Regions from separate parts of the Homo sapiens genome. Here region 2 is linked to region 1. The links come from fine-mapping of genetic effects on gene expression. A gene starts in region 1. The other region holds a variant in brackets. All regions are shown on one strand. Distances are between the middles of the regions.

What was found. PIP is the estimated chance that this variant, and not a neighbour inherited with it, causes the effect. A credible set is the group of variants that fine-mapping cannot tell apart.
Region 2: its variant is the best candidate, but not a certain one, in a credible set for the expression of PSMC3IP in thyroid (GTEx, PIP 0.57).

What each region holds. Positions count from the first base shown.
Region 1 is chr17:42,575,680-42,581,049 of GRCh38, forward strand. It overlaps PSMC3IP (PSMC3 interacting protein), which reads right to left and starts at 2,050. Exons shown (of 8, transcript NM_016556.4): 1 at 1,974-2,050; 2 at 1,782-1,882; 3 at 1,534-1,623. The coding sequence starts at 2,007. It overlaps RETREG3 (reticulophagy regulator family member 3), which reads right to left. Exons shown (of 9, transcript NM_178126.4): 9 at 3,836-5,370. RefSeq lists a silencer at 1,962-2,011 and an enhancer at 2,312-2,401.
Region 2 is chr17:42,541,826-42,547,195 of GRCh38, forward strand. It overlaps NAGLU (N-acetyl-alpha-glucosaminidase), which reads left to right. Exons shown (of 6, transcript NM_000263.4): 6 at 1,203-2,624. The coding sequence ends at 2,413. It also overlaps the pseudogene HSD17B1P1. Among named protein-coding and RNA genes, the nearest start is that of NAGLU, 8.3 kb to the left of the region's middle. The variant C/T (reference allele first, on the strand shown) is at 3,072.

The DNA.
Region 1 (5,370 bases):
ACAAGTAAAAATTGTAATACAGCATGCCTCAAAAGAGGTAAGGGCCAGGCTGGGCACAGTGGCTCATGCCTGTAATCCCAGCACTTTGGGAGGCCGAGGCGGGTGGATCACGAGGTCAGGAGATCAAGACCATCCTGGCTAACACGATGAAACCCCATCTCTACTAAAAATACCAAAAAAAAAAAAAAAAAAAAATTAGGCTTCGTGGCGGGTGCCTGTAGTCCCAGCTACTCTGGGAGGCTGAGGCGGGGGAATGGCGTGAACCCAGGAGGTGGAGCTTATAGTGAGCCGAGATTGTGCCACTGCACTCCAGCCTGGGTGACAGAGCGAGACTCCGTCTCAACAACAACAACAACAACAATAACAAAAAGAGATAAGGGCCTGAAAAAGAAACAATTAGCTCGGAGCATTCAAGGAAGATTTCTGGAAAAGGTGATGTCTAAGTGAAATCCTCAAGGAAAGAAAGAGCTGGCCAGGAAGAGAAGCAGGTACAGGGAAGACAACATGCAAAGGACAGAGCAGTAAAACACACCAGAATTATCTAGTGTTCGTGGATAGAAAAATAATGAGGATTGGTGAGGCCAGAGGCTGGCTGGGGCGTCTTCCGGTGCCTTTTACATGTTTTTTGCAGCACTAGAGAGCCATTGAAGAGTTTTAAATAGGGAAGGTGCATGACCAGATCTATTTAGACAGATCATTCTGACTGCAATGTTTAAGAGTTTAAGATATGTTTGAAGAGCCAAGATCTGTTAGGAGGATACTGCAACAAATAAAGAGGGCGTGAACTAGAGCAACCATGGCAGATGGAAAGGAGAGTGGATTCAAGAATGGAAAAATTAGCCAGGCTCTGTGGTTCACGCCTGTCCTCCCAGCACTTTGGGAGGCCAAGACAGGAGGATCACTTGAGCCCAGGAGTTGGGACCAACCTGGGCAGCACAGTAAGACCCATCTCTATAAAAATTAAAAAAATAAATAAAAACGGAAAAATCAGCTGGACTTGATGGTTGACTAGTAAAGGAAGTCAAGAATTGCTCCCAATTTCTGGTTTGGGTGAAGAGTAATTCCATTAGGGGAGGAGAATGTTAGAAAGAAACCAGTCCGGGGTGGGGGGAAGATGAGGCATTCTACTGTGGCAATTTTGACTCTGATATTAATGCCTGACAGATTCCAGCTGGAGGTCTGGGCTGGAGAATATAAATTTGATATGTGTGTTTAGAGAATCGGATGGAGGCAGGAGGAACATCATTTGGCAGAGGGTGTTGCTAATGTAGATGATAAGGAATAAGAGCTTTGGAGCGGAAATGGATCTTGGTAGCAACAATACAGAATCTTCTGTCATCCATCATATTGTAAATCTGGAAACCTCGTGAAGTTGGGATCCTAACAAGAGGAGTACACACCTTGATTTAAGGATGGTGGCCTAAGACAGGTGAGTTTTCCATGGGGGGCCTTGTCCCCAAAGAGTTCACACCAGGAGTAGATTCACCCGTTGTCGGGCTCTCATGGGTGACAATCGGCGCAAGTTCTCCTCACCTGATCCGCAAAATAGATCTTCTGCTTGCCGTACATCTTCTCTTTGATCTTGCCTTGTTGCGCCAGCTGCTCCAGCGTCTTCACCACCACCTGGCAGAGGAGAGAGAAGGAGCAATCAGAGGAGTCTGAGCCTGGGTCTGGGGAAATCCAGCCAGTGATGTGGAAAACGCCCAAGGCTCCAAAGGGCACGACCCCAGCCTGAATCCAGGGAGTCCGACGGAGAGGGAATCCCGGGAGAAGGTCCTCACCGCCTTGCCCAGTCCGTGTTCCCGCTGTAGGTTCCCGAACACATCCTGGGAGCTGTAGGGCCGGTTCTGCTCCTGCAGGTACCTCAGGAGGATCCCGGCGGCTACGGAGAGAAAGGCAGGGGAGGGGGCCACTCAACCGACCTCCTCACCCACTGCCCTCCCGGGTCTTCCCCGCGCCCACGGCGCCGTTACCTCCCGCCGCAGCTTCTGCCCGGCCTTTACTCATCGCCTTTCCCGCCACCCAACTCAGAAAGCCGGACGTTGTAGTTGCTCGGGGCGACGGCTCCTTCCGGCGACGGGGGCGGGCCTCGAACGGTGATTGGCTGAAGGGGAAGCCTTCCGGAGGAGCAAAGCGACCCCTCCCGGACTCCATAGTTCATTTCAGGTCGGAACTTGCGCATTCGGGCCGGACCTCAAGCCATGGGCCTCTGCGAAGGCGCCGGCGTGCCCACGGCTAAGAAACTTCCTCTTTCTGCTCCCGGGAACGAAGGCTGTAGCAGAGAAGGCCTTCAAGTTTCGAGACCCAGTTCCAGCCGCAGCTGAGCACTGGTGACCTTGAATTAAGTCTAATGTTGGGATTGGAAGACGCTTCAGACATCCGCTGCCGCCCTGGGCAAGCGACCAGCTCAAGGTTACCCCACAGGGACGTGCTCTGGTCCCACGGTCCAGTGCTCTTTTGTCGGTTAGTTTTGTCATTTGTAAAATAGGAACAGTAGATAGTGGTAGGAAAGTGGTTGTGAAAACTTAATAGAAAGCTAAGCGCCTTGGTCGGGCGCAGTGGCATGTCACCCCTGCAATTCTATCACTTTGGGAGGCTGAGGCGGGCGGATCGTTTGAGCCCAGGAATTCGAAACCAGTCTGGGCAATATGAAACCCCATCTCTGCAAATAAAGTACAAAAAATTAAGAGTGGTGGCGCGCTTCTGTGGTCCCAGCTACTCTGGAGGCTGAGGTGGGAGGGTCACCAGAGCCCCGGACATCGAGGCTGCAGTGAGCCACTATGAGCGCGCCACTGCACCCCATCCTGGCGACAGAGCGAGACGCAGTCTCGAACAAAAAAAAAAAAAGTGGGAAGGGGGGACAGCTAAGCGCCTTGGAGAGCAACCACCCTTATTTGCCTAATACCGAGCTTCGCACCCAGGGGGCACTCGACACCTACTGTAGTTTGGACGCCAAGGAACGATAGGGTTAGGAGGGGGCTACTGTTCAACCACAAAGCTTGTGGAAAAGTTTGTTAGCCCAGACAATCTCAGGGCAACACCTGGCAGGTGCTTTCCACCCCTGACCACAGTGGCCAATGGGACAGAGCCTGAAATAAATATTTCTAGTTTCTGAGGTGAGCTGAAGGCCAAAGAGCAGCTGTCCCTGCAGCTCAGACCATCCAGTGAAGGAGTAAGGTGCTACTTTTTAAAGCCTTCTGCTACCTACAACCTCCTTAGCCTTTAAAACGTGTGCTTGTCTCTGCACGTTTAGGAGACAATATTAAGAATTAGAAATGAAAGGGCCGAGCGCGGTGGCTCACGCCTGCAATCCCAGCACTTTGGGAGGCCAGGGCGGGCGGATCACGAGGTCAGGAGATCGAGACCATCCTGGCTAACACTGTGAAACCCCATCTCTACTAAAAATACAAAAAATTAGCCAGGCGTGCTGGTGGGCGCCTGTAGTCCAAGCTACTCAGGAGGCTGAGGCAGGAGAATGGCGTGAACCCGGGAGGCGGAGCTTGCAGTGAGAGATCGCACCACTGCACTCCAGCCTGGGCGACAGACCAAGACTCCGTCTCAGGAAAAAAAAAGAAATTAGAAATGAAGGAAATACAGGCTAAATACTAGCCAAGAGTGCCAGTTATACTGATGGTGGGGCTCTCACAAGAAGGAAAGTAGCCTCATACTATGGTGATGTTCTGGCCATCACGAAGTAAAAATAGGGGTGGGCTGGTGGGTCCCTCATACCTGGGCTTCCTCTTTTAAGGCTATCACTTCAAATTAATCAGAACTCAGATTTACAAGAGAAGACCTATCAAGGGTAGGACACCATTCAGCATCAGTCTCTTAAAGATTGTTCTCATACAAGATTTATTCCCCAGCACACCCCTCCCCTCCTCAGTTCACAGTGGAGACTATGGAGATTCAGGGCAGGATCCCTCAGGTACAAGAAACACCTTCCGAAGATTTTGCTCTCCTTCCTTCCCTCCCTCTTGCCAACTCCCAAGGCCTGAAGCGCACACTCATGCAAACACACGAAATCCCCCTCCTTCCCCACACCTCCTGTCTTTCCACATCAGAGCTCTGAACTTGAGAGGTGTCAAAAGTCTGTTTGAGAAGCCTAAAGTGGGGAGATGCCATTACCCCTGACCACCCCACTATGAGTGACTATGAGACACCTAACTCTTCCCTCTTCTGTCAACCATTTTCACTCCCTGGCCTCTGTACCTTCTCCATCAACCAAGAGCAAACATGTCAGCACACCCCCACCTGCAGTACATGAAAACAGGCTCTGTCCAACATCCCTCACCCAAGTACAGGGGTGTTGGGGGAGTGGCCCCTGAGGATCAGCAAAGGGTTAATGCAGAAGGAAAGAGGACAGAAGCGTTTGGCTTGAGCTCTGCTTGGGGAGGCAGAGGCTATAGACTGGCACAGGTTTAGAATCAAGTACCATGTTTAGGTTTCTGTCTCACATCACATGATTTCACTAGGGGCTGCAGAACAGATACCCCTCAGAGGGGTCTCTGCTGATTACAGCCACATTCTTACTATTGGCTCATCCTTAAAGGAGGCCCCACCAAGTTGGGAAGCAGTTGAAAATAAAAGCTGTAAAGGAGCTGAACAGGAAGTAAGAATAGGTGGTGCAAGAGATTATGGCCCCTGGGATGAATGACATGGAGCCATTTGTAAAGTGCTACTGTATCATCCCCCATGAATTATTGCTTCTCCAAAGGAGGAGCAGAGGAAGGAACAGGAACATAGAAATGAGTATGGTATTGCTTTGCTCACTGCTGAGGCTGATGGCCAGATGGACCCAGGGGTTATCAGAAACCGAAGATTAACTACACAGCTCCAGAAGACTCAGACCTCAAAATACAGAGGTGCTCACTAATCCTCCCAGCCAGCTGATCCCCCTGGGCCAAGGTAATGTAGAAGAGGCCCATCCCCACATCATATTCACATTTTTTAAATTTCACAAGCAATACTTTGGACCACTGGGGTTCAGGCCCCAAGAAATGATGGGCTAGATGAGAGGGAGCAGGCCTGTTCTGCAAAACCAAAGGACAAGTTTGCTTTAAAAAAAAAAAAAAATCACGCTGGGCACAGTGGCTCACACCTGTAATCCCAACACTTTGGGTGGCTGAGGCGGGCTGATCATTTGCAGTCAGGAGTTCTAGACCAGCCTGGCCAGCACGGTGAAACCCCATCTCTACTAAAAACACAAAAAAATTAGCCGGGCATGGTGGTGCATGCCTGTAATCTCAGCTACTGAGGAGGCTGAGGTAGGAGAATCGCTTGACCCGGCAGGCGGAGGCTGCAGTGAGCCGAGATTGTGCCACTGCACTCCAGCCTGGGCAACAGAGAGAGACTCTGTCTCAAAAAAAAAAA
Region 2 (5,370 bases), 34 kb before region 1:
CAGCAGCAGCAGCAGCAGCAGCCCGAGCTGTGAGATGGCAAATTCTCAGGCCCTACCCAAGACCTGAAGGAGAAGCTACATTTTTTTTTTTTTTGAGACAGATTTCACTCTGTTGCTGAGGCTGGAGCACAGTGGCACAATCTCATCTCACTGCAACCTTCGTCTCCTAGGTTCAAGCGATTCTCCTGCCTCAGCCTCCCGAGTAGCTGGGACTATAGGCACCCGCCACCACGCCCGGCAATTTTTGTTTGTTTTGAGATAGAGTCTCGCTCTGTCACCCAGGCTGGAGTGCAGTGGCACGATCTCAGTTCACTGCAACCTCTGCTTCCTGAGTTCAAGCGATTCTCCTGCCTCAGCCTCCTGAGTAGCTGGGATTACAGGCGCCCCCCAACCACACTCGGCTAATTTTTGTATTTTTAGTAGAGACGGGGTTTCGCTATGTAGGTCAAGCTGGTTTCAAACTCCTGACCTCAAATGATTCGCCCACTTCAGCCTCCCAAAGTGCTGGGATTACAGGTGTGAGCCACCTTGCCTGGCCAATTTTTGTATTTTTAGTAGAAACAGGTTTCACCATGGTGGCCAGACTGGTCTCAAACTCCTGACCTCAGGTGAACTGCCCACCTCAGCCTCCCAAAGTACTGGTATTACAGGCGTGATCCACTGCGACTGGCCTTGATTTTGTTTTTGAGACAGAATCTTACTCTGTCGCCCAGACTGGAGTGCAGTGGCACAATCTCAGCTCACTGCAACTTCTGCCTCATGGGTTCAAGTGATTCTTGTGCCTCTACCTCCCGAGTAGCCGGGATTACAGGCACCTGCCATTACGCTAGGCTAATTTTTGTATTTTTAGTATAGACAGGGTTTCCCCACATTGGCCAGGCTGGTCTGGAACTCCTGGGCTCAAGTGATCCACCTGCTTCAGCCCCTCAGAGTACTGGGATTATAGGTGTGGGCCACCACGCCCATTCAGAAACCTCCATGTTTTAAGGAGCCCTCTGGGTAACTCTCATGTTCACCCAAGCTGCTGAACCCTGTCCTGGAGTTTTCAGAGGGACGCGTATGTGCCACAGAGCGTCCCGCTGGTGGGGGTCATGGGAAGCCATGACCTGGGATAGACAGTCGTCTGTAGAGTGGGGTGAACATTCCCTGGGCCCTCTGTTTCATCACTCCTCTTCTCTGTTCCCCCTACCTCCTGTCCACAGTGGATACTGAGGCTGTGTGGCTGCTCCAAGGCTGGCTCTTCCAGCACCAGCCGCAGTTCTGGGGGCCCGCCCAGATCAGGGCTGTGCTGGGAGCTGTGCCCCGTGGCCGCCTCCTGGTTCTGGACCTGTTTGCTGAGAGCCAGCCTGTGTATACCCGCACTGCCTCCTTCCAGGGCCAGCCCTTCATCTGGTGCATGCTGCACAACTTTGGGGGAAACCATGGTCTTTTTGGAGCCCTAGAGGCTGTGAACGGAGGCCCAGAAGCTGCCCGCCTCTTCCCCAACTCCACCATGGTAGGCACGGGCATGGCCCCCGAGGGCATCAGCCAGAACGAAGTGGTCTATTCCCTCATGGCTGAGCTGGGCTGGCGAAAGGACCCAGTGCCAGATTTGGCAGCCTGGGTGACCAGCTTTGCCGCCCGGCGGTATGGGGTCTCCCACCCGGACGCAGGGGCAGCGTGGAGGCTACTGCTCCGGAGTGTGTACAACTGCTCCGGGGAGGCCTGCAGGGGCCACAATCGTAGCCCGCTGGTCAGGCGGCCGTCCCTACAGATGAATACCAGCATCTGGTACAACCGATCTGATGTGTTTGAGGCCTGGCGGCTGCTGCTCACATCTGCTCCCTCCCTGGCCACCAGCCCCGCCTTCCGCTACGACCTGCTGGACCTCACTCGGCAGGCAGTGCAGGAGCTGGTCAGCTTGTACTATGAGGAGGCAAGAAGCGCCTACCTGAGCAAGGAGCTGGCCTCCCTGTTGAGGGCTGGAGGCGTCCTGGCCTATGAGCTGCTGCCGGCACTGGACGAGGTGCTGGCTAGTGACAGCCGCTTCTTGCTGGGCAGCTGGCTAGAGCAGGCCCGAGCAGCGGCAGTCAGTGAGGCCGAGGCCGATTTCTACGAGCAGAACAGCCGCTACCAGCTGACCTTGTGGGGGCCAGAAGGCAACATCCTGGACTATGCCAACAAGCAGCTGGCGGGGTTGGTGGCCAACTACTACACCCCTCGCTGGCGGCTTTTCCTGGAGGCGCTGGTTGACAGTGTGGCCCAGGGCATCCCTTTCCAACAGCACCAGTTTGACAAAAATGTCTTCCAACTGGAGCAGGCCTTCGTTCTCAGCAAGCAGAGGTACCCCAGCCAGCCGCGAGGAGACACTGTGGACCTGGCCAAGAAGATCTTCCTCAAATATTACCCCCGCTGGGTGGCCGGCTCTTGGTGATAGATTCGCCACCACTGGGCCTTGTTTTCCGCTAATTCCAGGGCAGATTCCAGGGCCCAGAGCTGGACAGACATCACAGGATAACCCAGGCCTGGGAGGAGGCCCCACGGCCTGCTGGTGGGGTCTGACCTGGGGGGATTGGAGGGAAATGACCTGCCCTCCACCACCACCCAAAGTGTGGGATTAAAGTACTGTTTTCTTTCCACTTAAACTGATGAGTCCCCTGGGTCTGTCAAAATGAGAAGGTCACTGCTGCCACGCTTGGGAGGACTCAGGGCTATAGCATGGCCCTGGGGTGGGACCTGTTCTCCCATCCCTTGCCTCACGTCCCTGTTTTTGTTTGTTTGTTTGTTTGTGACGGAGCCTTGGTCTGTTGCCCAGGCTTGAGTACAATGGCACAGTCTCGGCTCACTGCAACCTCCGCCTCCTGGGTTCAAGCAATTCTTGTGCCTCAGCCTCCCCGGTAGCTGGGACTATAGGCATGCACCACCACGCCAGGCTAATTTTTTTTTTTCCAAGATGGAGTCTTGCTCTGTCGCCCAGGTTGGAGTTTAGTGGCACCATATTGGTTTACTGCAACCTCTGCCTCCCGGGTTCAAGCAATTCTCCTGCCTCAGTCTACCAGGGAGTTAGGACTACGGGCCTGTGCCATCACGCC[C/T]GGCTAATTTTTGTATTTTTCATAGAGATAAGGTTTCACCATGTTGGCCAGGCTGGTCTTTAACTCCTGAACTCAAGTGATCCACCTGCCTCGGCCTTCCAAAGTGCTGGGATTACAGGAGTGAGCCACCGTGCCCGGCCACGTCTCTCTTTTTAACACTAATGTTACCCTGACCTTTGAACGTAGAATGCCCTTCTGTTGCAGGAAAACCTCTTTTCAAACCATGTTTGTCCTTTGCTGGCATGCCACAGCAACAGTCACCAACACAGAAGACTTCTGTGACCAAATATTTGGAGGATTTTCCCCACACACACCAAGCAGCAGACATCAGCTGGGTGTCCTCCAATTCAGTTCCAATGTAATCAACCAGAGACAGCATCAGATCCCACAGGGTTAGGGTGCAGATCCATGAGACCACCCCCTCCTTCCCAACGGTTACAAGTCCTGATCCCTGGAACTTCTGACTAACTGGCTTCAAGTTGGAGTTCCCATGACCCCCTTCCCCTCTTTGGAGTCAACTCATTTGCGACAGTGACCCACGAAACACAGGGAAACCCTTATTATGTTTATTGCTTTATTACAGAGGAAAAAAATTTTTTTCTTTCTTTTTTGAGACAGGGTCTCACTCTGTCATCCAGAATGACTGCAGTGGCAGGATCTGGCTCCGTCACCCAGGCTGGAGTGCAGTGGCATGATCTCGGCTCACTACAGCCTCCATCCCCCCAAACCCCACGCCTCAGCGCCCCACCCCGCAAGTGGCTGGGACTCTAAGCATACACCACCACACCCAGCTAATTTTTTTGTAGTTTTTGCAAAGACGGGGTCTCATTCTGTTGCCCTGGCTGGTCTTGAACTCCTGAGCTCCAGCAATCCCCTTGCCTTGGCCTCCCAAAGTGCTGGGATTACAGGCATCAGCCACCGTGCCCAACCTCAAAGGATATTTTAAAGGATAGAAATAAACAGCCATATGAAGAGATACAGACAGGGCGGTCTGGAAGGGCCCAGAGCAGGAGCTTCTATCTCCATAGAGTTGGGGTTACATCACCCTCCAGGCACATGGATGAGTTCTTCACCTTCTGTCAGCCTCCACACGTTCAGCTCTCAGAAGCTTCCCGAACCCTGTCCTTTGGGCCTTTTATGGAGAACTCCATTGGCTGTCCATGACTGAAGCATGGACAACTGTGATAATGTGATTGGGCAAAAAGGGTCTGATCTAAGCCCAGCAAGGCCAGTCCAGATTCTTTGGGCCTTTGTGCAGCATTCCTTTCTCCAGGGTATGGGGCAAGGACCCACTCTGGAATGAGGATCCTACAACCCACAATCAGATTAGAATCCTGCCTTGGGCAGCTGAAAAGAGGACAGGAGAAGGTCAAAGAGAGGAAAGGCTGTTTTTTGAGGCCTGAGGCGCCCCAACATGACAACGAAAGACTGTAACCATGGTCATGTGAGTTATGAGCTAGGAACCCTGGACGAAACCAACACATATACAATCATCTCCCACCTCCCAACACCTTTACTTTCACAGCCTCTGCAGCAAACTGCGGTCACTATAATCGCTCCTGTGGCACAGAGGCATACCCAGGGGAATCTGCCCAGGGGGCCACTCTGTGCCCACGTGGGAACCCACATCTGCTTGTAAAGCCTCCCCTCCCTCTGACCAGAAACGAGGACAGTTTGTTGTTCCAAGCAGTGGGCTCATGTCTGTTTTGGCTCAGAACAGGGTGGGGAGAGCGGGCCAGGGACCCGCAGGAGGGCTTATCCTTGAGATTGCGTGGGAGACACAACAAGGGGTGGGGGCCCGCAGGCGGGGCGGGGCGAAGCAGGTGATATCCAGCCCAGAGCCCCAGCCTCTCCCCACAGTCTCACCATGGCCTGCACCGTGGTGCTCATCACCGGCTGTTCCTCAGGTATTGGCCTGCACTTGGCAATACATCTGGCTTTGGACCCATCCCAGAGCTTCAAAGGTATAGATAGGTAGGGACAGGGAGGGAGAGAAGGGAAAAGCCCTTGGAGGCCAGAAGAGAAGTCAGATCTTCCTCCTCTCCCAAAACCTCCAGTGTATGCCACGTTGAGGGACCTGAAAACACAGGGCCGGCTGTGGGAGGCGGCCCGGGCCCTGGCATGCCCTCAGGGATCCCTGGAGAGGTTGCAGCTGGATGTAAGGAACTCAAGCTCCCTGGCCGCTGCCCGGGAACGCGTGACCGAGGGCCGTGTGGATGTGCTGGGTGAGCCTCCTGGAAGCATATGGGCTCCTAGGAGCCTTCTCCGCCCTGCGTTGAAACCAACATGTCCCCAGGCC